Linked DNA regions of Homo sapiens. The protein of the gene in region 1 interacts with the protein of each later gene in a pairwise test. Each region holds a gene or a part of one and is shown in the gene's direction. Other genes may lie near its edges.

Evidence for each region.
Region 2: the proteins of NR1D2 (region 1) and CSNK1E interact in a two-hybrid assay, tested with the Homo sapiens proteins (one study listed by BioGRID).
Region 3: the proteins of NR1D2 (region 1) and GPR37 interact in binary tests that used the Homo sapiens proteins (3 or more experiments, as listed by UniProt).
Region 4: the proteins of NR1D2 (region 1) and CRY1 interact in a two-hybrid assay, tested with the Homo sapiens proteins (one study listed by BioGRID).

What each region holds. Positions count from the first base shown.
Region 1 is NC_000003.12:23,976,271-23,981,136, forward strand, and holds the end of NR1D2 (nuclear receptor subfamily 1 group D member 2), read left to right. Parts: intron 1-952; coding exon 953-1,149; 3' UTR 1,150-4,347; downstream 4,348-4,866. UniProt on the Homo sapiens protein: Transcriptional repressor which coordinates circadian rhythm and metabolic pathways in a heme-dependent manner.
Region 2 is NC_000022.11:38,300,415-38,307,448, reverse strand, and holds part of CSNK1E (casein kinase I), read left to right. Parts: intron 1-4,200; coding exon 4,201-4,311; intron 4,312-4,439; coding exon 4,440-4,588; intron 4,589-6,496; coding exon 6,497-6,725; intron 6,726-7,034. Other genes in the region: TPTEP2-CSNK1E (casein kinase I), read left to right, coding at 4,201-4,311, 4,440-4,588, 6,497-6,725.
Region 3 is NC_000007.14:124,762,787-124,770,022, reverse strand, and holds the start of GPR37 (prosaposin receptor GPR37 precursor), read left to right. Parts: upstream 1-4,230; 5' UTR 4,231-5,046; coding exon 5,047-6,069; intron 6,070-7,236.
Region 4 is NC_000012.12:107,083,540-107,090,573, reverse strand, and holds part of CRY1 (cryptochrome-1), read left to right. Parts: intron 1-7,034.

The sequences.
Region 1 (4,866 bases):
ATAACAAATTGTCCCAAAATTCAGGGGCTTACAAATGCAAACATTTATTTAATCTCACAGTTTTTGAGGGTTAAGATATGATATGAGAGATAGGATATGATATGTGCCTCTGACTCAGGGTTTCTTAGGAGGTTATAGTTAAGCTGTGGACAGGGCTGTGGTCTCATATGAAGGCTTGAGTAGGGAAGGATCTGCTTTCAGTTGTATGTAGTTATCGGCAAGATTGAGTTCCTTGCAAGCTGTTGGACTGAGCACCTCAGTTGCTTGCTGACTGTTGGCTAGAGCCCACTCTTAGTTCCTTGCCATGTGGGCCTCTCCACAGGGTGGCTCACAGCATGGCAGCAGCTTTTCTCAGAGTAAGTGAGCAAGAGCGTACCTAAGATGGAGGCCACAGTTTCTTGTAAGCTAATCTCAGAACGGACATCCTATCAATTCTGCCATATTTTTTTTCATTAGAAGTTAGTAAGTCTAGGTCCACTTAGTAGGAGGAGGTTGCGCAAGGGTGCGAATACCAGGATGAAGGGATCATTGGAGGCCATTTTAGGGGCTGCCTACCACACATGGTGACATACAAATGGGAGTGTATTCCATATGTATTGAAAATATGTTTATATACTACATTATTTTATTTTGCTAATTAGAAGCAGTTGAAATCAGATGACATCTAATTTTAAAAAGTCAGAACCTCTATGTTCTTGTGAATAAAAATTCTTAACAGTAAAGAATTTTGATTGATCAAATGTTTTATGTGATATATATGCTTTATAATATAGTAACTAGCTAACGATTTGTTACTGAGATTTTGAGAAATTTGTCAACTTTTGCCTTTATTCAGATGTATAAAACCTTGCTTTCTATTCGTTAGTGACACTGATAAGCAAGAATTTTATTTATATTTAATGTTAATAATTTATCCTGTTTTTCCTATTTCCCTATTCCTGATCTCTCTTAGATCGATCTGGAATAGAAAACGTCAACTCTGTGGAGGCTTTGCAGGAAACTCTCATTCGTGCACTAAGGACCTTAATAATGAAAAACCATCCAAATGAGGCCTCTATTTTTACAAAACTGCTTCTAAAGTTGCCAGATCTTCGATCTTTAAACAACATGCACTCTGAGGAGCTCTTGGCCTTTAAAGTTCACCCTTAAGGCCTTTGTTTATTTAAACATGAACTGATGGTAACTGTACATTTTGTGCTAAAATGCATATTTATATGTGTATACCATATGTGGAGATAGAAAAGACCTTTAAGACAATAAAAGATTGTAGGCTATCTCTGTAATCATGCAATAGCTGTTCGGATTGAGAACTCTTCAGCCATGATTAGACGTTGACTGCATCTCCCTGATAGACCAATCAGCTGTGTCGCACTTAAACTGGAGAAGTTACACTGAAGTATAATCACACTGAATGTTAGACTTTTTCATCTGCCAAAACCAAAAACCATTTTGATCTCCCTGTGGTTATCAATATAACGCACAATCACAAGTGTATGAGGACTTAGAAATTAATCCTTTGTGGTAGGAGTTCTGTTGAATGATGGAAATCTTATTACTACCACAAGACTATTTGATCTGGTAATTGGAGACTTCGGGATTTAGGAGATCTCCATGTCTGTATTTACTCTACCACTGCTAAAGTGTGTGGTCCTGGGTAGTTTACTTGCTTGCGGAAAATGAGAATTGATGGTGTCCCCAATGCCCCACCTCACAGAGTTACTAAAAAATGTCTGTAAAGCATATTTACCTCTTGGGAGATAGGCACTATGTAAATAAGGTAAAATTTCTGTTATTACAATTATTCATAATAATATTCTTTTCTTATTTCTAAGCCTTTCTGGGAAATCATTTCAGTCCACACCAACCATATTATTCAGGGTTCCTGCCATATGTGTGGGGTATCCTACTGATACACACGTATTCAAAGTTTATGGGTACAACAAAGACATAGTACATGTACATAATATGTATGTGAATATAGTTAAATATATTTCTTCACAATATTTTAAACTGTGAAGAACTTTATCATACAGGAAACTTAAAACAAGAGGTGTCAAAAGACCCAAATTAGGTGCATTTTACTTGTTTATGATGGCATAACCATTGCTTTAAAATGTTTAGACAGTAGAATATTGAATTTATGCTCTATTTTTGTTTATTTAAGCAACACTTAATGTAAAAGTGCAACAGGCAATTGAATCCAAATTTCAACGACAAAAAAAAAAAACATGTATTTTAGAGTTCATCTTTGGCAAAATCTTTGGTTCAGGGTACTAGTTGTTTAAAAGTTGATTCATATTCTTACCTTGTGCTGAGAAAGGTTGCATTGCTGCCCCTTATACACATGCTGCAGCTTGATGTTAAAGAATTTTTATTCTTTCTGAAGAACTAATTAATGTTTAAAGCAACTGTTTAATATGATGGCATGTGTGTGTGTGCGTGCGTGTGTATGTTCTGAGTCCACTTCTTTTTTCCTAAATAACACTACAGGGATTTTGTCATATTAGATTTAATTTATAATTTGAAAAATCATCTAGTGTGTGACCTACAGGCTTAGAAATGGTATAGTCAAAGACATTTTATCCACATTTCTAATAGTGGACTTGATTAAGTAGATAAGATCAGCATCTGTTTATGGTAGTAGGAGAAATAGCCAAAGTTGAGGATTTTATGTATGTTTTCCTGTTTACCTGGAAAATAGCAATTAATTGGATTTTTTGGTAAAGATTGCCTTCTGTATAATGTTTGGATTATATAAAATTGCAAAAATGATAACAGCCCGCTTTACTGTACTAAGCCTGTTACTTTCATGACGTGTGAGCAGAATGCCTTATTTTGTAATCTTGTTTAACTTGTTGCTACTGGGACTTGATTTACTGTGGCACTAGTTAAGTAAGTTAAAAAAAAGTTAAACCCTCTCATTATTAAAGAGGAAAGGCGATGGTGATGTCTGTAGTACAATATAAACCATAATTGTGATTTACCTTAAGTAGGTATAACTCTTATGGGATATACAGTATAGTTTTTGTGAATCTTTACATGATAGCATTATCTTTTTATAATTTTTTTTCCTAAGATAAACAAATGCATAGTTTTCTTCTATGGGTGATAGAAACAGCTTTTTGAAGTAATGAAAACCTCAAAAGATCATGTTGATTCTTAATTTTTGCCTTTTGCATAAGCCTCTTTATAACATGTATCTTTAAAACAATTAAGTCTTTAGGAATGTGTAACCAGAACTATGTTAGTATTGCTTATAAAACTTTAGTTAGGTTCAATATATACATATATACATCTCTATATAGGTATATAGATTTGCATTTTGTCTTGTAAAATTTTATTTGAATAAATTCTTCCTGTAGGTAATGGGAAACAAAATTAATAGTTCATATGTCACTCATAGCATTTCTATATTTGAAAGTAGCCCAATATAAAACTTTTGATTCTAAAATTAAACCAGCAGCCTATTACAAGCACATTCTTTGATTGAGTCATTGGTTATAAACTTACTAAATGCAGAGAAAGCAGCCAATTTAGGAAACTTCTGAGTTGGTGGGACACTGTTGATTAATAATGTACTGTATGAATTAAGTGATGCTTTAACTTTGATTTTACATTTTAAAGTTAAAATGTGGGCATTATGTCAGCAAACTTAAGGGCATTATGTCAGCAAGCTAAAACATTTTTTTTCCTGTGCTTTTAATGTATCTCTTTACATGATCTGAGAGAGGATTCAAGTTGATAGAAATAGCTGAGGGGAAAAGGGGGAACATCTTGGGATGAAGCTTGTCCTTATGGTGATGGTTTAATTACAGATTAAAAAATTAGAAGGAAATTTCAGTGGATTAAGTGTATAGCTTTCATATCTACATTTCAAGAAATTACCATTGTAACTTGATAAGAGATGATTTATTTTATGTAAACATCTTTGCAAAGCAAGGTGTAGCAGCTCAGCTAGATTTATTACTGTGCACGAAAGTAAATACCTATCTCAATTATTCTTTTTCTTTTCCAATATAAAGTTTGCTGAATGTACAAGAAGAGTTTATCACTTAGGATATAGAATTTTTTTAGGGGTTGGGGGAGGGGATCTGTTAGGAAACTGTTACCTATAAACAAAGATTGACTGGATTCGATCCAAAAGATAAAACTTGAAGCTATTCTGGAACTAACATGGAAAAATGAAATGGCTATTGTTTAAAAAAATGATAGAAATACATTGTTGATGGGATATGAGTTAAGTTTATTTTCTACAAACTGTAATTGATGAGGACATGGATAATATCTTCATGTTTCTGAGAAGTAATCTGTATGTGGGGGGAGGGGATAATAAATATTTCTAACCAACTGTGGTGTTTGGTGTCTAATCTACCTTGCCTTTTTTGTAAAACTAATAATTTAACTCACTACAAGTATCTTTCCCCTGAGCATAGCAGGATGTTTTATGTAAATCTCTGATTCAGCATGGGGAAATGTGTGTATATGTATATATGTGTGTGTGTGTATATACACACATATATATGTATATGTGTATATATGTATGTGTATATATATATATGTATATATACATGCACACACACACACAGGGCTTAAAAAAAGATTTTAGAGTTGAGATTCTGGCAAGGACTGTTGCTATTTTCTATAATGCCAACTGAGTAATGGTTCGTTGTGTCTAATAAGGTAGTCTTTCTAGGTAGGAGATGTGAGAGAGGAATGGGGTACTTGATATAACCAGAAATCACCCTTGGCCATGAATGGAGTGCACCTCAGCAAGACCACTAGCTTCTTTTTCTTTTCCTATCAGTTGTTCCCATGTTGGCAAAATTAAGATAGCTACTTAAATCTCCATTGTTTGCAGTAATATTG
Region 2 (7,034 bases), on another chromosome or scaffold:
CTCCTGAGAGCTGGGATTACAGGCGCTCCCACGGGAGCACCTTGGCTAATTTTTGTATTTTTAGTAGAGATGGGGTTTCATCATGGTGGTCAGGCTGGTCTGGAACTCCTTGCCTGGTGATCCGCCTGCCTCAGCCTCCCAAAATGCTGGCACCTGGCCTTCTCCATATACTTTAAATCATCTCTAGATCACTTATAATACCTAATACAATGTAAATGCTATGTAAATAGTTATTGTACTGTATTTTTAATTTTTATATTATTTACCTATTTATTTTTGAGACATGGTCTTGCTCTGTCACCCAGGCTGGAGTGTGGTGGTGTGATCATAGCTCACCGCAACCTTGACTTACTAGGTTCAAGCAGTCCTCCTGCCTCAGCCTCCCAGGTAGCTGGGACCACAGGCACGTGCTACCACGCCTGGCTAATATTTGTATTTTTTGTAGAGATAGGGTCTCACTATGTTGCTTAGGCTGGTCTCGAACCGCTGGACTCAAGTAATCCTCCTCAGCCTCCCAAAGTGGTAGTACTACAGTTGTGCATCACTGCACCCAACCTATTTCTTATTGTTGTGTTGTTATTTTTTATTTTCTCCCCCCACGTATTTTTGATCCATGGTTGAATCGGCAGATGCGGAACCCACAGCAGATGCTGATACGAAGGTATCAGCTGATAAGAAGATGCTGTGTTCTAATTTTTAATTTTTTTTTTTTTTTTTTTGAGATGGAGTCTTGCTCTGTCGCCAGGCTGGAGTGCAGTGGCACAATCTCGGCTCACTGCAACCTCTGCCTCCTGGGTTCAAGCAATTCTCCTGCCTCAGCCTGCCGAGTAGCTGGGATTACAGGCGTGCGCCACTACGCCCAGCTAATTTTTGTACTTTTAATGGAGATGGGGTTTCACCATGTTGGCCAGGATGGTCTTGATCTCTTGACCTTGTGATCCGCCTGCCTCGGCCTCTCAAAGTGCTGGGATTACAGGCGTGAGCCACCGCGCCCGGCCTGTGTTCTAAAATTGATTGTGGTAATGGCTGCGCAAGCTTGTGAATATACTAAAAACGGTGAGTCGCACACTTTGAGTGACTCAATTGGAGAGTTATCTGAATTACATCTCAATAAAGGTGTTGAAAGAAATTGCAACTTATAACACAGTATCCAGTGAAGCGTCCCCCACCCCTTCCTCCCTGACCCACTTAGCCCTGTACAGTCATGTTTCTGTTCAGTGTTTCTTTATGTAGCTAGAGCCAAACACAGATACTTAGTTCCCCACCTTTTTAAAGAAAACTGAAATGAGAGTGTGGAATATACACTGTTCTGTGCTTTGCTTTTTCACTTCCTGTATCTTGGAGATCTTTCCACTTGTGTGCAGAGAGAGCTTCCTGGTTCTTTTTCCATTGTATTCTGTTTTATGGATGGGCTATTCTTTATTTAATCAGCCCCCTCAGGAGGGACATTTGGGTTGTTTCCAAGCTTCTGCTGTTCCAAACAGCCTGCAGCCGACAGCCTTGTCCCCGCCTTGTTTTGCACCGTGCTAGGATGTCAGGTAAACTCCCAGAAGCGGGGTTGCTGGTCAGGGCTGAGTAGCGTCAAATCCCCCTCCAGTGGCGACTCAGCAGTTGACGCCTCCACCACCTGGGAGGAGTGCTCAGCGCCCCCACAGTCTTGCCGACAGACAGGTGTGTTATCTCGTAAGACTTTTGACAATCCTAGGTGAAACATGGTCTTTCACGATCATATTAATTTGCATTTCTCTTACAAGGAGGTTGGGCATCTTTCCCTATGAGTAAGGCTTTTCTATTAATGATTTCTTTCTCTGTGAAGTGTGTGTTTCAAATCCTTTGGCCTATTTTCTGCTGAGTCTTTTTCTGACTGATTTGTAGGAGCTCATTACATATTAGCTCTTTGCCTGTGATAAGAATTGCAAGTGAGTATGTCTCTTAGGACTTTATTTCCGGTGTTTTTGCCATGCAGAAGGGATTCTTTTTTTTTTGGAGAGGAAGGAGCTTTTTTTTTTTTTTTTTAAATGGCTTTAGGATTTTGAATCAGGGATAAAAATAAAAGCTTTGCCTAACCCCAAGGCTATAAGGCAATTCTCCCTTCTTCTAACATTTCATTGTTATTTCTTATTAAACGTTGAGTGGATGCAAAGAATACGTATAGAATACCTGCATGGCCTAAGGTGTCCCTCCCTGGGAACCACCGTCTGACATTTAATCTTTTTCCTTTCTTTCGTGTTTAAATCTGTATTGTCCAGTCTTGTTGCCTGTTTTGATATGGAAACAAGTAGAACTGTGCTTGCACTCTTCTTTTTTTTTTTTTTTTTTTTTTTTTTGAGCTGGAGTTTCACTCCGTCACCCAGGCTAGCGTGCAATGGCACAATCTCGGCTCACTGCAACCTCCGCCTCCTGGGTTCAAGTGATTCTCCTGCCTCAGCCTCCCAAGTAGCTGGGATTACAGATGCCTGCCACTGCGCCCGGCTAATTTTTGTATTTTTGGTACAGACAGGGTTTCACCACCTTGGCTGGGCTGGTCTCGGACTCCTGACCTTGTGATCCACCCGCCTCAGCCTCCCAAAGTATTGGGATTACGGGCGTGAGCCACTGTGCCTGGCCTCGGGTAGAATGTTTTCAAGGTGCACTCGTGTCGTAGCGTGTATCGGTACTTTATTCCTCTTTATTGCTGAATAATATTCCGCCGCATGGAGGCACTGCATTCCATTCATCCTTGCATCTGTGACAGATGTTTGTTGTTTCCACCCTCTGGCTGCTGTGAGGAGTGCACCCCTGGGACCAGGGTCATTGTGTGAAGCAGGCATCCTTTCCTCTTCACTGCCGCCTGGGATTCCCTGGTGACTGCGCCACTGTTCCTGTTCTTCTGCTGCTGAGCACTTGGGCTGTTTGCTCCTGTGTCCATCCTTGTCCTGTCCCCCTGGTGCACACGTGTTTCTGAAGGATGTACACTCAGGAGTGGGGTTGCTTGGGCGAGCGTTTGTTTATGTTCAGCTTCACCCAAGAGGTGCACAGGGGCTGTGCCAACTCACACCCACACCTTTATTTCTTATATACAAACTTTTCCTCTACTTGAGATTTCTCCTGGTTGTGGTGTGAGCCATGGTGTCTTTTCTCAGGTGGCCAGCCGGTTGTTCAGGGACATTATTAATGAACAGTCTCATCTTTTCCTCTGATGTGAGGTCCTGCCTTTCTCCTGTCTTGAACTCCTCCTGAGGCTGTGTCCCTGGGGGTTGTTCTGGCCTGTTTGTGTCCTGTTGCGACACTGTCCTACTCCTCCTGCTGGGCTCGCTGCTGGCCCCAGGAAGGAGACACCCTGTCGCCCAGCCTAGCCCCAGCCCTTCATCTCATCCACCCATACAGCCAGGGAAACTGAGGCAAGGTACACTTTGGGCTTGGTCTTTCTTGTGACTTCTTGAGTTGGGCAGTGGGCCCAGGCAGAGAGCGGGGCCTTGGTGTGTGTGAGGGTATTTTCTTAGAGCCCCTTGAGAAGCCAGGAGTGGACTGGGGGAGACGGGGAGGTGCAGGCAGGACCTCTGACCTATGCTGGAGGCCAGCAGAGCCGGGGTTGATCTCAAGGCCGCCATTTACAGGTCAGGTGACCTTGAGCTGGGTCTCTAGCTGGGTCTCTGTTTTCTCATCTCTACAAGGGGGTTGAGAATCGAATGAGACACTGGATTAGAATGTGCAGGGCTGCCTCTGAAGGCATCAGCATTGACTGAGGGGTTGCTGCGGCTGTCCCATCCTCATCCTGTAGGCCAGGGTGGTCCTGGCTTGTTCTGGTGTGTTCGGCAGCCCAGCCCCATTGGGCCTCTTCTGCACGTGCCACCATCTCAACCCGACAGACCTCACTGCCTGAATTTGCTCTAGGACTCAGCCCCCTCCCTTAGGTGGTCTGTGAGCCTTTTGCATACCTGACCCTTGCCCCACTCACATCGGGCCTTCTTGTCGCCCCAACCTGTGGCCCTGGGTAGCCCTTGTGTGTCACCTCTGTCCCTCACAGCGCTGACCTTCTTTCCCCTCAGGAACCCTTTGCCGGGGCTCCTTTGCCCCCTTCCCAGCCTCCCCCAAGAGCTCCTCAAGGGCAGATGGCCCCGGGCCCGGCACACGCCAGATCTCAGAAATGCTTAGTGGGGCGCCTGGGACTGCCTGGCCTTTGAGGGTGACCCTGGTCCCTTGCCTCCCTGCCCCGGGCAGGTGCCAACATCGCCTCTGGTGAGGAAGTCGCCATCAAGCTGGAGTGTGTGAAGACAAAGCACCCCCAGCTGCACATCGAGAGCAAGTTCTACAAGATGATGCAGGGTGGCGGTGAGCGCAGGGTGGGCGGCGGCGGGCGCCGGGTGGGTGGCGGTGGGCAGCCATGAGCACAGGGTGGGCCGGGCGTGGCTGGCTGCCTGCCTCTGACCCCTGACAGAGGCCCTCTGCTTGACCCCCAGTGGGGATCCCGTCCATCAAGTGGTGCGGAGCTGAGGGCGACTACAACGTGATGGTCATGGAGCTGCTGGGGCCTAGCCTCGAGGACCTGTTCAACTTCTGTTCCCGCAAATTCAGCCTCAAGACGGTGCTGCTCTTGGCCGACCAGATGGTGAGTCCCCGTCCCCTCCATCCCCAGCCAGATGCCTGTGGGCCCAGGATACCAGCCCTGCCTCCTGCCCCCAGAGGATGCCAGAGGATGGGCCTGGGCCAGGGGACCTTGTCCACTGGCTATAGAATTGTAGGTGTTTATTTATTTTTTGAGGCGGAGTCTCACTCTGTCGCCCAGGCTGGAGCGCAGTGGTGCGATCTCAGCTCGTTGCAACATCCGCCTCCCAGGTTCACGCGATTCTCCTGCCTCAGCCTCATGAGTAGCTGGGATTACAGGCACCTGCCACCACGCTGGGCTAATTTTTGTATTTTTAGTAGAGACAGAGTTTTACCAAGTGATCCGCCCATCTTAGCCTCTCAAAGTGCTGGGATTACAGGCGTGAGCCACCGTGCCCAGCCAAGTTGTTTATTTAAAATGTGATTTCAGGCCCAACTCCAGACCTGCCGAGTCAGGGCCTGGGACTCTGCCTGGGGTAGTTTTATTTATTTATTTCAAAAATATCATTTAATTGTAAGAAATAGAGATGGGGGTCTCACTGTGTTGACCAGGCTGGTCTCAAACTCCTGGCCTTGAGCAGTCTTCCCATCTTGGCCTCCCAAGATGGGAATTAACACGGGATCACAGGCATGATCCACCACGTCTGGCCTGCCCTGGGTAATGTAAAGCCTGCGGTCGGTCACACAGACCTGGTCCTGTTCCAGACCAGTGACCGTAGGTGAACGCCGAACCTCTCTGAGCCTCAGTGGCCTCATGTGAGAGTCTCTCCTTTGTTGGTTGTTGAGGGGATTAGGTGAGATACCATTCAGCGCCTTGCCAAAACAGGCCCCTCTAACAGGCTGTTGTTAAGTACTAAGCCCTTCATCAGCATAGGGAGGAAAGCTTCTTAAAAATACAAAACTGTAGAATTTTGAACTTGGAATGGAATGTGGAGATCTCGTACAGGGGTTTTAATCTTGGTCTGCAAAAGCCCTGCGATGTAGGCTGAAGGTGTGTGAGCAGAGGGTCGCCAGAGCCCCTCATGGTGTGAAACTCAAGAAAGGTGCAGGAGATGTTGAGCTGTGCTGAACCTGGGGCCAGAGCCAGAGGCCACGGCATGTGGATGGATATTAGTTTGAGTTTTAAAAACTCGACTGAAAAGGTGGCTCAAGTCTGTAATCCCAGCACTTTGGGAGGCCGAGGCAGGCGGATCTCCTGAGATCGGGAGTTTGAGACCAGTCTGACCATCATGGTGAAACGCCATCTCTGCTAAAAATACAAAAAATTAGCCAGGTGTGGTGGCGCGTGCCTATAGTCCCAGCTATTCGGGAGGCTGAGGCAGGAAAATCACTTGAACCCTGAAGGCAGAAGTTGCAGTGAGCCGAGATTTTGCCACTGCACTCCAGCCTGGGCAACAGACCGAGACTCCATCTCAAAAAAAAAAATATCAAAGGAAAGAGGGCCATGTGCCTGTCTGAGTTTGGCATCCTTCGGAAGCCCTGTCTTTTGTGTTCTGCCTCTGTCACCTCTTCCTGGTCTAGGCTTCCCCCATGTTCCCTGCCTGCCCCTCGCCCACATCTGTTGCCTCTCTGGCTCCCTAAGTCCTGTGAGTGTGGGGCCGGGCAGGCAAGCCTTCCATGGGGAACCAGTTGCCTTTCTAGCAGACTCTTCATTTCTGGATCTTCCCATTAGCTTTCCTGCAATACTCTCTTTCTCTGTCTCACAGCCAACTTGGTGAACTCCCCCTTTAGAGTTCATCCTGATGTCACATTTTCCAGGAGGCCTTCTCTGGCCTGCCCCTTAGTTATCCTTCATGGTCGAAGGCAGGCCTTTCTCCCTCTGCCTTTCCACCTCTGTGGCCCCAGCCCCTGCCTGGCCCAGAGTGCTAGGCAAGGGCCCCTCTGTTGAACAAATGGCCCCCCTCCTCCCCAGATCAGCCGCATCGAGTATATCCACTCCAAGAACTTCATCCACCGGGACGTCAAGCCCGACAACTTCCTCATGGGGCTGGGGAAGAAGGGCAACCTGGTCTACATCATCGACTTCGGCCTGGCCAAGAAGTACCGGGACGCCCGCACCCACCAGCACATTCCCTACCGGGAAAACAAGAACCTGACCGGCACGGCCCGCTACGCTTCCATCAACACGCACCTGGGCATTGGTGAGGGAGCCAGGCCTGGAGCAGTGTGCACCCGGGGCCACTGGCTGGGGCCCAGCTCTCTGGAGCCCTCTCACCCCCTACCCTGATGGAGGCCCCCAGGCTCTTTTCTAGTGAGAAAGTCCCCACCCCGTCTGCCCCCAAGCTCGTGCTTATTCCGTGTCCTTGCACAGTCGGGTCTTCCCCTTCGTAAGCCAAGCTGTGTGTGCCGGGCGCCTTCCCTGGCCCTGCTTCCTCCTCCGCCCTGTTGGTGCAGGCTGGAAGATACAGGCTCAGAGGTTTAACATGGGTTGCTTAAGGTCATGCAGCTTA
Region 3 (7,236 bases), on another chromosome or scaffold:
CCCAAAGGACTTGGCTATGCAATTAGTGTGCTGGTCCAAGTATGGTTCAAACATATTTTATGTAGCCCAATGTCTACATTTTTGTCTGGAATAAATAAAAGACTATTTTGATTATTGTTGTTTTATTTTAAATTTTAAGTACTTTAATTTTGATATTTGATTTTTAAGGTAGACATAACCATATTGATATTATATTCCAAGCAGTGCCATTTCCCACCCGTTAATGATAATTTGGCTCTTATATATGGCAAAAGAGAGAGGTGATTAATGAAGGTGATCAATGGAGGCTTCCAAACTAACAATTAATAATTCAGTGACAGAAAGGCTGCAACCACAAACTATTTGGAAAACAGACAAATTTTGAATTTCAGAAAATAATAATCTATTGGTGGTATGTTACAGTTTCTTTCAGAAAAAATGACCCTTTTGAATTATCTGAGGCAAAAAAGAAAGAAAATTATTTGATAAGTGAATTGTGTGCTGGGTAAAGCTTCTGTTCAACGATGTATCTTAAAACTTGAAATAGTAATTTCTCTCATTCTGTGATGTGTGTTATTTCAGCACACCAAACACCAAATGAAGTGTAATAGATTTTATAAAAATGCCAAGGCAGGTAATAATTTACATGTTCTTTTTTTATTAAAAAAATCAATAGTATGTATTATAAACCTTGTGAAATGCTGACACAGGAAAAAAAATCCATGTTCAAATCAGTTTTCTTTGTACAGATAAATGGCCTCAGATGTAAACCAGACAATGATTAGCTAATTCCTTTTCTGATCTATATTTCTAAAGTAGAATCTACACAAATGAATGAGATGTGACTATTTCCATTTAAAATTTATAGTTACAGCTGAGCTAAGCTTTGGAAAAATATTTGAAGATGTGTGTTTTTCTTTTTGCAGGGAATGCATTCTAAATTTTCTTATAAACCTATTACTTTACACTTTTATTTACCAAGCATATTCTTTTTCAAGGATTATGTGTTTTTGACAGCATTTAAATTTCACTAAAAACAAAGTTGAACTACCAAGAGCAACAGTAATAAATATTTTATACTTTATGTAGTCTTTTCATATCTACCTAATCCACATAACAACTTGGGTGAGCAGAGCTGAGAGTAGGTATTAGTATCCTTATTATACAGATGAGAAAATTGTGTTTCCAAAAATATAAATAATTGATATTTTTGGAAACACAATTTTATAAATAATTGATATTGACCTGGGCTCCAATAGAGTAGCTGGAGCTCTTTGGTTTTATTCATGGTCCGAATAAGTTAGAGAACCAGAACTTGGCAACCATCCAAGTAGGTAGGCATCATTGTTCAGGTTAAGGAAGGGACCACTCATGAATGAGATACCACCACAGACAAACACAGGTAGCTCCTCCTTCAGGCCTTTCCCCAGCCACTCTCCAAGCATGGTACCTGAGTTCTATAGCCCACCACTTTAAGAATGATGCCCAACTCTGGGCCAAGCATGTGTGAATTACAATGGAGCTTCTAAGGGAGCAGGTAAAGGGATTTTTCCCTGTTTAGCTTTGATTCCTTTCTGTGTAGTGATAGAGATTAGTGACACATTTATGTGGTCTAGAGTAAAAAGGATAGAAACATATCTTACATGTGTAACTTAAACTCTAAGCTAATGAGATGAGAAGGGAAGCTATATCACTGTTTCATTTTGGCAACTTATTTTTCCTGTTTCATTATTAATCCAGATTTCCCTCTTCTAAATTTTTTTTAAAGAAACAAGATACTACAGTTAGAGTAGAAGCTTCCTTCCATCCCATGACCATTCTTCTATTTCCTGAGGTGACTAATATTCTGAAGTTGATCTGTATTTATTCCATTCACATATTTTATATGATACACCATGTATGATTATCAAATTGTTTTATGTGCATTTTAAGAGCTACACAAATGGTAGCATTATATAGTTAACACATCAAGTTCTACGTTTTTCCCTTACATTTATGTTTCTGAGATTCAGTCTTGGTGATACACATAAGCCTAGTTTGTCCTTTTTATGAGTATACAAGAAAATATAAATTCAGTGAGAGCAGAACTTTATTTTATTCACTGCTCTGACCTAAGTAACTTGAGCAGAATATTTCTTTAATGAAGTAGTGAATTTGAGAGAATGAGTTAGTGTATATAAATGAATGAATTAATGTACAAATGAATGTGTGCTATTAGCTTATATTTTTTCCTATTTCTGGCTTTGTCTGATTTTGACATTAAGGTTATTCTGCCTTCACAAAATGAACTGAGTAGCTTTAAAACATTTTGTATAAATGTATATTTATTCCGCAGGATATGCTAAGGTCTAGCACTTTCCTCTGGGTAGATCTTGATGAATGATTTGATTTCTTTAATGTTATAGTTCGATTACAGTTTCTGAAAATTTTCTTCTTGAACTATTTTTGGTAGTTTATGTTTTTCTATACAATTATTCCTGTTGTCTCCATTTTTAGATTTAATGGTGTATTAGTTTACTATTGCTACTGCAACAAATAACCATAAATTTTGTGGCTTAAAACAACACACATTCATTATCTTACAGTTATGGAGGTCAGAAGTCTCAAATGGGCTAGTAGATCCTTTTTTATGCCCATTCTAGCTTCCAGAGATTGCCCACATCACTTGGCTTGTGTTTGTTTTTACTCTGACCCTCCTGCCTCTCATTTGTAAGGGCTCTTGTGATTATAGTGTACCCACCTGGATAATCACGATACTCTCCCCATCTCAAGAGTCTTAGCTGAATTGCATTGGCAAAATCCCTTTTGCTCTGTAAGGTAACATACTCACAGGTATTAGGAATTAGGATTCGGACATTTTTTTGGGGGGGCATTATTCTATTTACCACAATTGGTATCATATGTTCCATTGTGTTTTCTCCTGCCTCTCTAGATGTGTTGCTTTAAAAAAATTCAGGCCGGGTGTGATGGCTCACGCCTGTAATGCCAGCGCTTTGGGAGGCCGAGGCGGGCGGATCACGAGGTCAGGAGCTCAAGACCAGCCTGGCCAACATAGTGAAACCCCGTCTCTGCTAAAAATACAAAAAAAATTAGCCGGGCATGGTGGCGGGTGCCTGTAGTCTCAGCTACTTGGGAGGCTGAGGCAGGAGAATCGCTTGAACCCGGGGAGGCGGAGGTTGCAGTGAGTCGAGATCGCACCACTGCACTCCAGCCTGGGCGACACAGCAAGACTCTGTTTAAAAAAAAAATTCAGAATGTGTTTATTTCTTCCTCTATCATTTTCTCTTCATTAATTTGTCTATTTTATTAGCTATGCCCTGACAGTTTTGACAGGGTTGTGGGATATAGTAGAAAGGTTGGAAAGGCATGGACAGCCGTGCTGGGAGTGCTGTTCGAGTAATTTTCTGCCTCCAGTCATTTCCCACTACTTCATCAAATACAACTACCTCACTATGCTCTGGGTGGTACGAAGTAACCCATGGTAGGATGCTTCCCAACTCAGTGTTAAAGGTAATGGTGCATCCTGAGCTTTCTCGCTCTGCATCTCAATCCTGGAACTGGTAATTCTCTATGACTGACACCTCTGAGCTCCCATTCTCTCCTATCTCTAGGGAATACCTGAGGAGGTGAGGTTTCACCTTCTTACTCCCCGCGGCCCAACCCCCGTCCGCCCCTCCCCCGCCCCGCCCCTCGCCCCCCAGAGCTGAGACCTGGGCATGCGCATCAGCCGCAACAGATTGGAGGGGACCCTGCTGCTCACTCCCCTGCTACCCTCCTCTCTTCCCTCCCCCGACCGCTCTCATATTCCCGTTCCCACCCCCACCCCCCACTCCCGCCCCGCACCCGCCCCTAGCCCGGGCTCGGGGACCTGTCAGGCTGGTTTCGACAGCTGGGGAATTAACCTGTCCCGCCCATCCCTAGCCTCGAGCCGCGCAGGCTCCGCGCCTCCGCCCTTGTTCCCTCCCAGCTCCTCCGAGTGGAAGCCGCTACAAATGGCTTGAATGAAACGTGTGTGGGTTTAGTGAGTGGTGAACCACCAGGGGATCCCGTCTCCCCACAAACCAGTATCTCTCCGAGGAGGAGGCGAAGGAGTGGGAGGAGGCAACGAGCCGAGAGTCGAGCTTCGCGGGCGCGCGCAGCGGCTGGAGCGCGGGGGCGAGGCCGGGCCACCTCCCCTTCCCGGCCGCGCACTGCCTGGCCCGCGGCGGTTCCAGGCACCACCCTTCCCGTCCGGGCTGAGCCCGCTGTGGCAGTGACTAGCTCCCGCGGCTAGCGGCACTGTCCACCGACGAGCGGCGCCCTCTTCTCCCCCTTCTCCCCACGATTTCCTTCTCTGCGGCGGCACGCCGTCCAGCAGCCTGCTTCGCCCCGTCGTCAACTTTGAGCTGGAGGAGAAGCAACTTTGGCAGTGGCCGCGGGGTTGGAATCCCGCTTCTCCTCGGCAGCAGTAGGCTCGCAAGTCGCTGGGGTTAGGTGGGGCAAGAGTTTCGCCGGCGCATCAGCGCTGCTTCGGACTGTTTGCAACGTGTTTCCAGCGAGCTGGGAGCGGGGTTGTGACTGCGAGTCGTCTGGGGGAGGGGGACTTGTTTTTCTTTTCCTCTAGAGACCTCGGCTTGCAACTGGATCAAACGCTGTCGAAAGGATGTAAATAGGCAGAGCAACTGTTACCAAGAAGGCCACCACCCCCACCCAAAGGCAGTGAGGAGTGTGGGGCTTCGTCTGGGCTCCCCCGAGTCTCAACAGTAATCAACAGTCAGGTGTTGATTGCAACTTTTCAAGGTCAGCCACCGGGAGTAGCCTATTCCCTCTAGGAACCTTGGAGGGCATACCTTGCTGGGACTCAACTTGGCTGAGAAATGCACAAGATGCCAAAGGAGGAAGGATTATAGGGGGCGTGTGTGTGACCCCCAAGACCGATCTTCCGCTATCACCCTAATCTCCGGTTCCCCGCTACCCGGGCGGGGGTGAGTATGTGACATGTGCCTAACTCTCAGCAGCAACTTCGGCAGCAGGTGTCGATCCTAACTAAGCAGGAGCTGCGGCTGCCGGGTGTGCCCTCACCAAGCCATGCGAGCCCCGGGCGCGCTTCTCGCCCGCATGTCGCGGCTACTGCTTCTGCTACTGCTCAAGGTGTCTGCCTCTTCTGCCCTCGGGGTCGCCCCTGCGTCCAGAAACGAAACTTGTCTGGGGGAGAGCTGTGCACCTACAGTGATCCAGCGCCGCGGCAGGGACGCCTGGGGACCGGGAAATTCTGCAAGAGACGTTCTGCGAGCCCGAGCACCCAGGGAGGAGCAGGGGGCAGCGTTTCTTGCGGGACCCTCCTGGGACCTGCCGGCGGCCCCGGGCCGTGACCCGGCTGCAGGCAGAGGGGCGGAGGCGTCGGCAGCCGGACCCCCGGGACCTCCAACCAGGCCACCTGGCCCCTGGAGGTGGAAAGGTGCTCGGGGTCAGGAGCCTTCTGAAACTTTGGGGAGAGGGAACCCCACGGCCCTCCAGCTCTTCCTTCAGATCTCAGAGGAGGAAGAGAAGGGTCCCAGAGGCGCTGGCATTTCCGGGCGTAGCCAGGAGCAGAGTGTGAAGACAGTCCCCGGAGCCAGCGATCTTTTTTACTGGCCAAGGAGAGCCGGGAAACTCCAGGGTTCCCACCACAAGCCCCTGTCCAAGACGGCCAATGGACTGGCGGGGCACGAAGGGTGGACAATTGCACTCCCGGGCCGGGCGCTGGCCCAGAATGGATCCTTGGGTGAAGGAATCCATGAGCCTGGGGGTCCCCGCCGGGGAAACAGCACGAACCGGCGTGTGAGACTGAAGAACCCCTTCTACCCGCTGACCCAGGAGTCCTATGGAGCCTACGCGGTCATGTGTCTGTCCGTGGTGATCTTCGGGACCGGCATCATTGGCAACCTGGCGGTGATGTGCATCGTGTGCCACAACTACTACATGCGGAGCATCTCCAACTCCCTCTTGGCCAACCTGGCCTTCTGGGACTTTCTCATCATCTTCTTCTGCCTTCCGCTGGTCATCTTCCACGAGCTGACCAAGAAGTGGCTGCTGGAGGACTTCTCCTGCAAGATCGTGCCCTATATAGAGGTAATGCCTTCCAGGGGCTCTCAAGCTAGTGGCTTTATCTGTTTTCGGGATTATAGCATCAGAGAACTGCTGCTGGATGCACCTATCTAGCTGAACGCCTTTCCTTTTTATCTGGGGCCCTCTTTCATTTCTCTTTCCAATCATTTATGCATGTATGTATATACAAAAAGAGGCAGCTTCGCGAAATCACCTTCAAATTCATCTGCTCCTGGGCTGTAAAAAAAGGATGATCTCACAATATACAGAATTGTTTGGAGTATAAATCTATCTCCCTGAATATGGTGTTATGCGTATTTCTGATTTGGCACTTGTCAGAGATTTTAGGGTTAAGTAAATGGCCAGCCTAAGGTTGTCATCATCAGAGCCTACAAGGAAAAAAAAAAAAACATTAGCATTTGTGTACTAGTTACCAAGTGCTTCAATGTGAGTTTTCCCCCAAGAAGATTATTGCATTTTTTCTTAAACAGCAAAGTTGGAGTAACATTTTATTGAAAGAAAGAAAGAAAGAAAATTGTGTTTGTCAGTTGGCCTCATGATATATTAATAACCTCTCAAATTAGTTTAAGTGTCTGACTGTCTTCCATGCTATCCCATCTAAATTCTTAAGTCATTTTTTGTTCCTGTCTTTTCCCATCTCGGTTTCTTAATTTTATTTTTGTGTGTTTGCGTGAACTTAAGCAAAAATAAGACTTTGGCCAGCGTGGCACATAATTTGTTTAACATTCTCAAAGTTATACATTTGTTATTTGTTATGGGTGGAAAGATTGGCTATTTTAAGGGATTGACCCTAAGACTAGAAAATTTCTTGGGAAGAAGGGGGCACATCTAGTTTCCAAACTTTGGAAACAAAAATCATTTTGAGTGAAATTGCATTGTTTCATCCTACAGCTAGTGTCCTGGCCCACTATTGTGGTAGGTGGACTTTGCTCTTTAAATGGCCTCTCTTTAAACACCAGCTCTTGGAAGGGGCCCAACTGTTTTGCTGCCAGTTGTGTTTTTAGCCAGCTGGCCCTTGATTTTCTCCATTCAGACTGTCCATTTCATTTATGGAAGCAGAAGAAGGGAAACTGTAAATATTCCGCAGCCCCTGATCCTGTCTGGCACCAGGGCCTGTGACACTATGTTCAACATTGTTCCAGGCCTAAAGCTGGGGGATAAGTAAACAGA
Region 4 (7,034 bases), on another chromosome or scaffold:
ACTGACAGCATTAATAAAATGAGATAGACAAGAGATGCAAATGGTGCAAGGGCTGAACCTTGAATACTCTTAATGTTTATAAATTGTGGAGCTGTGAAAGAACCAGCATATGAGACTGCGAAGGAGCCACTAGTAATGTAAGAAGAAAACCCAGAAGAGTATGGTGTCTTAGAAGCCAAGTAAAGAAAGTATTTTGGTCAGGCATGTAATCCCAGCACTTTGGGAGGCTGAGGCAGGCAGATCACTTGAGGCCCGGAGTTTGAGACCAGCCTGGCCAATATGGCAAAACCCCGTCTCTAGTAAAAAACACAAAAAAATTAGATAGGCGTATGGCACATGCCTGTAATCCCAGCTACTCGAGGAGGCTGAGGCAGGAGAATCGATTGAACCCAGGAGGCAGAGGTTGCAGTGAGGCGAGATCGTGCCACTGCACTCCAGCCTGGGCAACAGAGCCAGACTCTGTCTCAAAAAAAAAAAGAAAAAGAAAAAAAAGAAAGAAGGAAAATATTTCAAGGAAGAGTGTTTTACTTACGTCAGATGCTACCGATAGGTCAAGAGGAGAACTGAAAAATAAAAATTGGATTTAGCAATTTTAGGTCATTTGGAATTTTATCTGGAGTGGTTTTGGTAGTGTCAGAGGCAAAAGTCTTTTTGGAATCACTCATAGTACCAAATTCAGTGCTTTTTATATAGTAGTAGCTCAATTATTGTTTGTTGAATATAGTGATATCTTGGAGTCAATAATTTTATATTTAAACAGCTTTATTAATTTACTTATTGACTATGGGATAATGCCCAAATTCCTTAGCCTGGCAAGATCTACCTTTTGGCTTATGTATTTCATTTTCTGCTGTTTACAATATGTGATTTCAACTCCAGGGGGAAAACCCTCTTAGTTTTCTTTAGAAGCTATCTTGTATTTTCTTCGGTCAACACTTTTTAGACTTTTGGATTTAACAGAAAAGCAAAATTTTAAATAGTATTCTACCTAATAAGCACATTAACAAAACCACTTTTTGATATTGCCATCCTTTCATTTAAAAAGGATGTTTTATATTTAAAAAAAAAAAGTTTGGCAGAGCTCAATGTCTCATGCCTGCAATCCCAGCTACTCAGGAGGCTGAGGCAGGAGAATCACTTGAGCCCAGGAGTTGGAAGCTGCAATGAGCTATGAATGGGCTACTGCACTCCAGCCTGGGTACACAGAGAGACCCTATCTCTTAAAAAACAAACAAACAAACAACAACAACAAAAAATTTGAAGGACATTGTCTCAGAATAACATGTTTTTGATTTGGGTAAATTTACAAGCTTTATGAAAATTTGCATCTCTTAGAAAAATTATCCTATACAAAAACTTATACACTAACATTCACAGAAGCATTATTCATAATAGCCAAAAGGTGGGAACAACCCAAATGGCCATCAGTTGATGAATGGGTAAACAAAATATGGTATATCCATATAATGGAATATTATTTGGCCATAAAAAGGAATGAAGTACTGATATACGCTACATGTATGAATGAACCTTAAAAACAAACTAAACGAAAGAAGCCAGTCACAAAATTCCATGTGTTATATGATTCTGTTTATATGGAATGTCCACAGTGGGCAAATGTATAGAGAGAGGAAGCAGACTAGTGGCTCCTTAGGACTGGGGAAGCTAGGGAGTTGGGAGGTGATAGCTAAGGGGCACAAGGTTTCTTTTTGAGATGATGAAACTGTTCTAGAAGGTGATGGATGATTGTACAACTCTGTGCTTGTCTGGGATGATTAGCAGTATTCTGAACTCTTGCACCACTTTTTGCTGTTGCTCCTCACATCACTCTTAGCATTTGCTGCCCTCATTTGTGAATGTTAGTATTGTTTTATTAATAGTTTGTTTGAGCTGCTATAACAAAATACCTTTAGACTAGGTAGTTTATAAACAACAGGAATTTATTTCTCACAGTTTTGGAAGATGTCCAGAATCAAGGCACCAGCAGATTCAGTGTCTCTGCTGAATAGACGATGCTTTCTCTGTCTCCTCACATGGCAGAAGGGGTAAACAAGTTCCTGCAGCCCTTTTTATAAGAGCACTCCCTTAGTCTGTTTGTGTTATTATAAAGGGATACCTGAGGGTGGGTAATTTATAAAGAAAAGAGGTTTACTTGGTTCATAGTTTTGCAGGCTTTACTAGAAGCATGGCTTCAGCCTCTGGTTCTGGTGAGGACCTCAGAAAGCTTTTAATCATGATGGAAGGGGAAGTGGAGCTGACATATCACATGGCGAGAGAGAGAGGGGAGGGATACCAGTCTCTTTTTAATAATTAATTGTTCTGTTAATTAATAGAGTGAGAAGTCACTCATTACGTGATAGCACCAAGCCATTCATGAGGGATCTTATCTCATGTTCCAAACACCTCTCACCTCCAACATTGGGGATAACATTTTAACATGAGATTTGAAAAGGACAAATATCTAAACTATATCACTCCACTTCTAGCCCCCCAAATATCTTGTCTTATTTATTTATTATTTTTATTTTTATTTTTGAGACGGGGTATCACTCTGTTGCCCAGGCTGGAGTGCAGAGGCGTGATCATGGCTCACTGTAGCCTCAACCACCTGGGCTCAAGCAGTTGTCCCACCTCAGCCTCCCAAGTAGCTGGGACCACAGGCATGCATTACCATGGCCAGGTAATTTTTTTTATTACTTGTAGAGGTGAGATCTCACTAAGCTGTCTCATACTCCCGGGCTAAAGCAATTCTCCTGCCTCAGCCTCTGAAAGTGCTGGGATTATAGGTGTAAGCCACCATGCCCACCCTCTTTTTTCTATTGTAAGATATAATCATCTCTTTCAAAGTCCCCAGAAATCTTAACTAGTTTCAACATCAACTCAAAGTCTAAAATCTTATCCGAGACTCAAGGCAGATTCCTTATAGCTATGAACCTGTAAGATCAAAAACAAGTTATCTACTTTTAAGATACAATGGTGGAACAGACATTGGGTAAATATTTTCATTTTAAAAGGGACAAATTGACCAACAAAAAGGGACCCACCCAAGTCTGAAACCTACAAGGGCAGACATTAAATCTTAAAGCTGTAAAATAATCTCGCTTGACTCTTGTCCCATAACTGAGCACACTGGTCCAAGAGGTGGGCTCTTGAAGCCTTGGGCAGCCCCATCTCTATGGCTTGGTTGGGCACAGACCACATGGCTTCTTTCATGGATTGGAGTCTAATGTCTGTCACTTCTCCAGGCTGAGGGTGTGTGCTGTTTTCATCCAAAGGATTCTTTTAATCTTTCCACTTCCTCACTTTCCACTCCCTCCCACATCCTGAGCACACTGGTCCAAGAGGTGAGCTCTCAAAACCTTGGGCAGCTGCATCTCTATGGCTTGGTTGGGCATAGCCCACATGGCTGCTCTCATGGATTGGAGTCTAATGTCTGTCACTTTTCCAGGCTGAGGGTGTATGCTGTTTACATCCAAAGGATACTTTTAATCTTTCCACTCCCTGACTTTTCTTTTCCTTTTCTTTTTTTCTTTTCTCTTTTCTTTTCCTTTCTTTCTTTTTCTTTCTTTCTTTGTTTCTTTCTTTTTCTTTTTCTTAACAGTATTTAACACATTTGACCACACCTTTCTCTTCTTCTCTTGGCTTTAGTTAGACTGCCACCACTGTGGGTCCTGGAGGGCAGTGCCCCTGTTCCCGCTGCTCTACAGTGAGTTCTCTGTGGGGACTGTAACCCCATATTTCCCCTTGGCACCAGCCTAGTAGAATCTCTCTGTAGGAGCTCTGCTGTGGCAGGCTTCTGCCTGGACAGCCAGACTTCTTGACATATCTTGTGAAATCTAGGTGGAAGCTGCCAAACCTCCATGGATCTTGTATTCTGTATACCTGCAGACTTAACACCACTTGGAAACCATCAAGGCCTATGGTTTGCACCCACTGGAGTGGCAGTCCAGACAGTACCTGGGGCCTTTTGAGCCCTGGCTGCAGCCAGAGCAGCCAGAACGTGGGGAGTAGCATCTCAAGACCGCACAAGGCAGCAACACCCTGGGCCTGGCCTCCCAAACCATTTTGCCCGAGGAGGCCTCTGAGCCTGTGATGGAAGGGGTAGCCTTGATTTCTGGAATGTCTTGGGGGCTTTTCCCCATTGTCTTGACTGTTAACAACTGGCTCTCTTTTATTCATGTTAATTGCTTTAACAACCTGTTCTGTCAGGGCCTGGTACCTGGGGCTAGGTAGTTTGGATTTCTCTCCTGAAAACTTCCCTCTACCACATGGTTAGGTTGTAAATTTTTCAAATTTGTATGCTCTGTTTTTCTCTTAATTATTAGCTTTAACTTTGTCTTTTTTTTGAACTCCCATATCTGATAGTAGGCTGTTAGAAGCAGCCATGTCACCTTTTGAACGCTTTGTTGTTTAGAAACTTTTTTTTGCCAGGTAGCTTAAGTCATTACTCTTAAGTTCAGCCTTTTACAAAGTCCTAGGCATGGATACAATGTAGCCAAGTTTTTTGTTAACAAGCATAACATATAATGTGGCCATTTTTTTGTTTTAGTTTTTAAAAATTTTATTTGAGATCTCATGAACGTGGCCTTTACTGTCTATATTTTAATCAGCATTTTTATCACAACCTCTTAACCAGTCTCTAAAAAGTTTTAAAGTTTTTCTTGTGTATGAGGTTTTTTGTTTTTGTTTTGTTTTGTTTTGAGTTCTCTAAGCTCTTGTAAGCAGCTTTAGTTTTTGCTTTTTTTTTAATACTTTAAGTTCTGGGATACATGTACAGAACCTGCAGGTTTGTTACGTAGGTATACATGTGCCATGGTGGTTTTGCTGCACCCATCAACCTGTCATCTAGGTTTTAAGCCCCACATGCATTAGGTATTTGTCCTAATGGTCTCCATCCCCTTGCCCCTCAACCCCTGGCAGGCCCCGGTATGTGCTGTTCCCCTCCCCGTGTCCATGTGTTCTCATTGTTCAACTCCTACTTATGGAGAACATGCGATGTTTGGTTTTCTGTTCCTATGTTAGTTTGCTGAGAATGATGCTTTCCAGCTTCATCCATGTCCCTGCAAAGGACATGAACTCATTCTTTTTTATGGCTGCTTCATATTCCACAGTGTATATGTGCCAGATTTTCTTTATCCAGTCTATCATTGATGGGCATTTGGGTTGGTTCCAAGTCTTTGCTATTGTGAACAGTGCCACAATAAACATACATGTGCCTGTGTCATTATAGTAGAATGATTTATAATCCTTTGGGTATATACCCAGTAATGGGATTGCTGGGTCAAATGATATTTCTGTTTGTAGATCCTTGAGGAATCACCACACTGTCTTCCATAATGGTTGACCTAATTTACACTCCCACCAACAGTGTAAAAGCGTTCCTATTTCTTCACATCCTCTCCAGCATCTGTTGTTTCCTGACTTTTAATAATCGCTGTTCTAACTGGCATGAAATGGTATCTCATTGTGGTTTTGATTTGCATTTCTCTAATGACCAGTGATGATGAGCTTTTTTTTCATGTTTTTTGGCCACATAAATGTCTTTTGAGAAGTGTCTGTTCATATCCTTCACCCACTTTTTGATGGGTTTTTTTTTTTTTGTAAATTTGTTTAAGTTCCTTGTAGATTTTAGATATTAGACCTTTGTCAGATGGATAGATTGCAAAAATTTTCTCCCATTCTATAGGTTGTCTGTTCACTCTGATGATGGTTTCTTTCACTGTGCAGAAACTCTTTAGTTTAATTAGATCCCATTTGTCAAGTTTGGCTTTTGTTGCCATTGCTTTTGGTGTTTTAGTCATGAAGTCTTTGCCCATGCCTATGTCCTGAATGGTATTGCCTAGGTTTTCTTCTAGGGTTTTTATGGTTTTAGGTTTTACATGTAAGTCTTTAATTCGTCTTGAGTGAATTTTTGTATACAGTGTAAGGAAGGGGTCCAGTTTCAGTTTTCTGCATATGGCTAGCCAGTTTTCCCAGCACCATTTATTAAATAGGGAATCCTTTCCCCATTTCTTGTTTTTGTCAAGATCAGATGGTTGTAGGTGTGTGGTGTTATTTCTGAGGCCTCTGTTCTGTTCCACTGGTCTATGTATCTGTTTTGGTACCAGTACCATGCTATTTTGGTTACTGTAGCCTTGTAGTATAGTTTGAAGTCAGGTAGCATGATGCTTCCAGCTTTGTTCTTTTTGCTTAGGATTGTCTTGGCTATACAGGCTCTTTTTTTGGTTCCATATGAAATTTAAAGTAGTTGTTTCTAGTTCTGTGAAGAAAGTCAATGGTAACTTGATGGGAATAGCATTGAATCTATTAATTACTTTGGGCAGTATGGCCATTTTCATGATGCTGATTCTTCCTATCCATGAGCATGGAATGTTTTTCCATTTGTTTGTGTCCTCTCTTATTTCTTTGAGCAGTGGTTTGTAGTTCTCCTTGAAGAGGTCCTTCACATCCCTTGTAAGTTGGATTCCTAGGTATTTTATTTTCTTTGTAGCAGTTGTGAATGGGAGTTCATTCGTGACTTGACTCTCTATTATTGGTGTATAGGAATGCTTGTGATTTTTGCTGATTGATTTTGTATCCCGAGACTTTGCTGAAGTTGCTTATCAGCTTAAGGAGTTTTGGGGCTGAGGCAATGGAATTTTCTAAATATACAATCATGTCATCTGCAAACAAAGACAATTTGACTTTCTTTCTATTTGAATACCCTTTATTTCTTTCTCTTGCCTGATTGCCCTGGCCAGAATTTCCAATACTATGTTGAATAGGAGTGGTGAGAGAGGGCATCCTTGTTTTGTGCCAGTTTTCAATGGGAATGCTTCCAGCTTTTGCCCATTCAGTATGATATTGGCTATGGGTTTGTCATAAATAGCTCTTATTATTCTGAGTAACGTTCCATCAATACCTAGTTTATTGAGAGTTTTTAGCATGAAGCGGTGTTGAATTTTGTCCAAGGCCTTTTCTGCATCTATTGAGATAATTGTGTGGTTTTTGTCATTGGTTCTGTTTATATGATGGATTACATTTATTGATTTGCA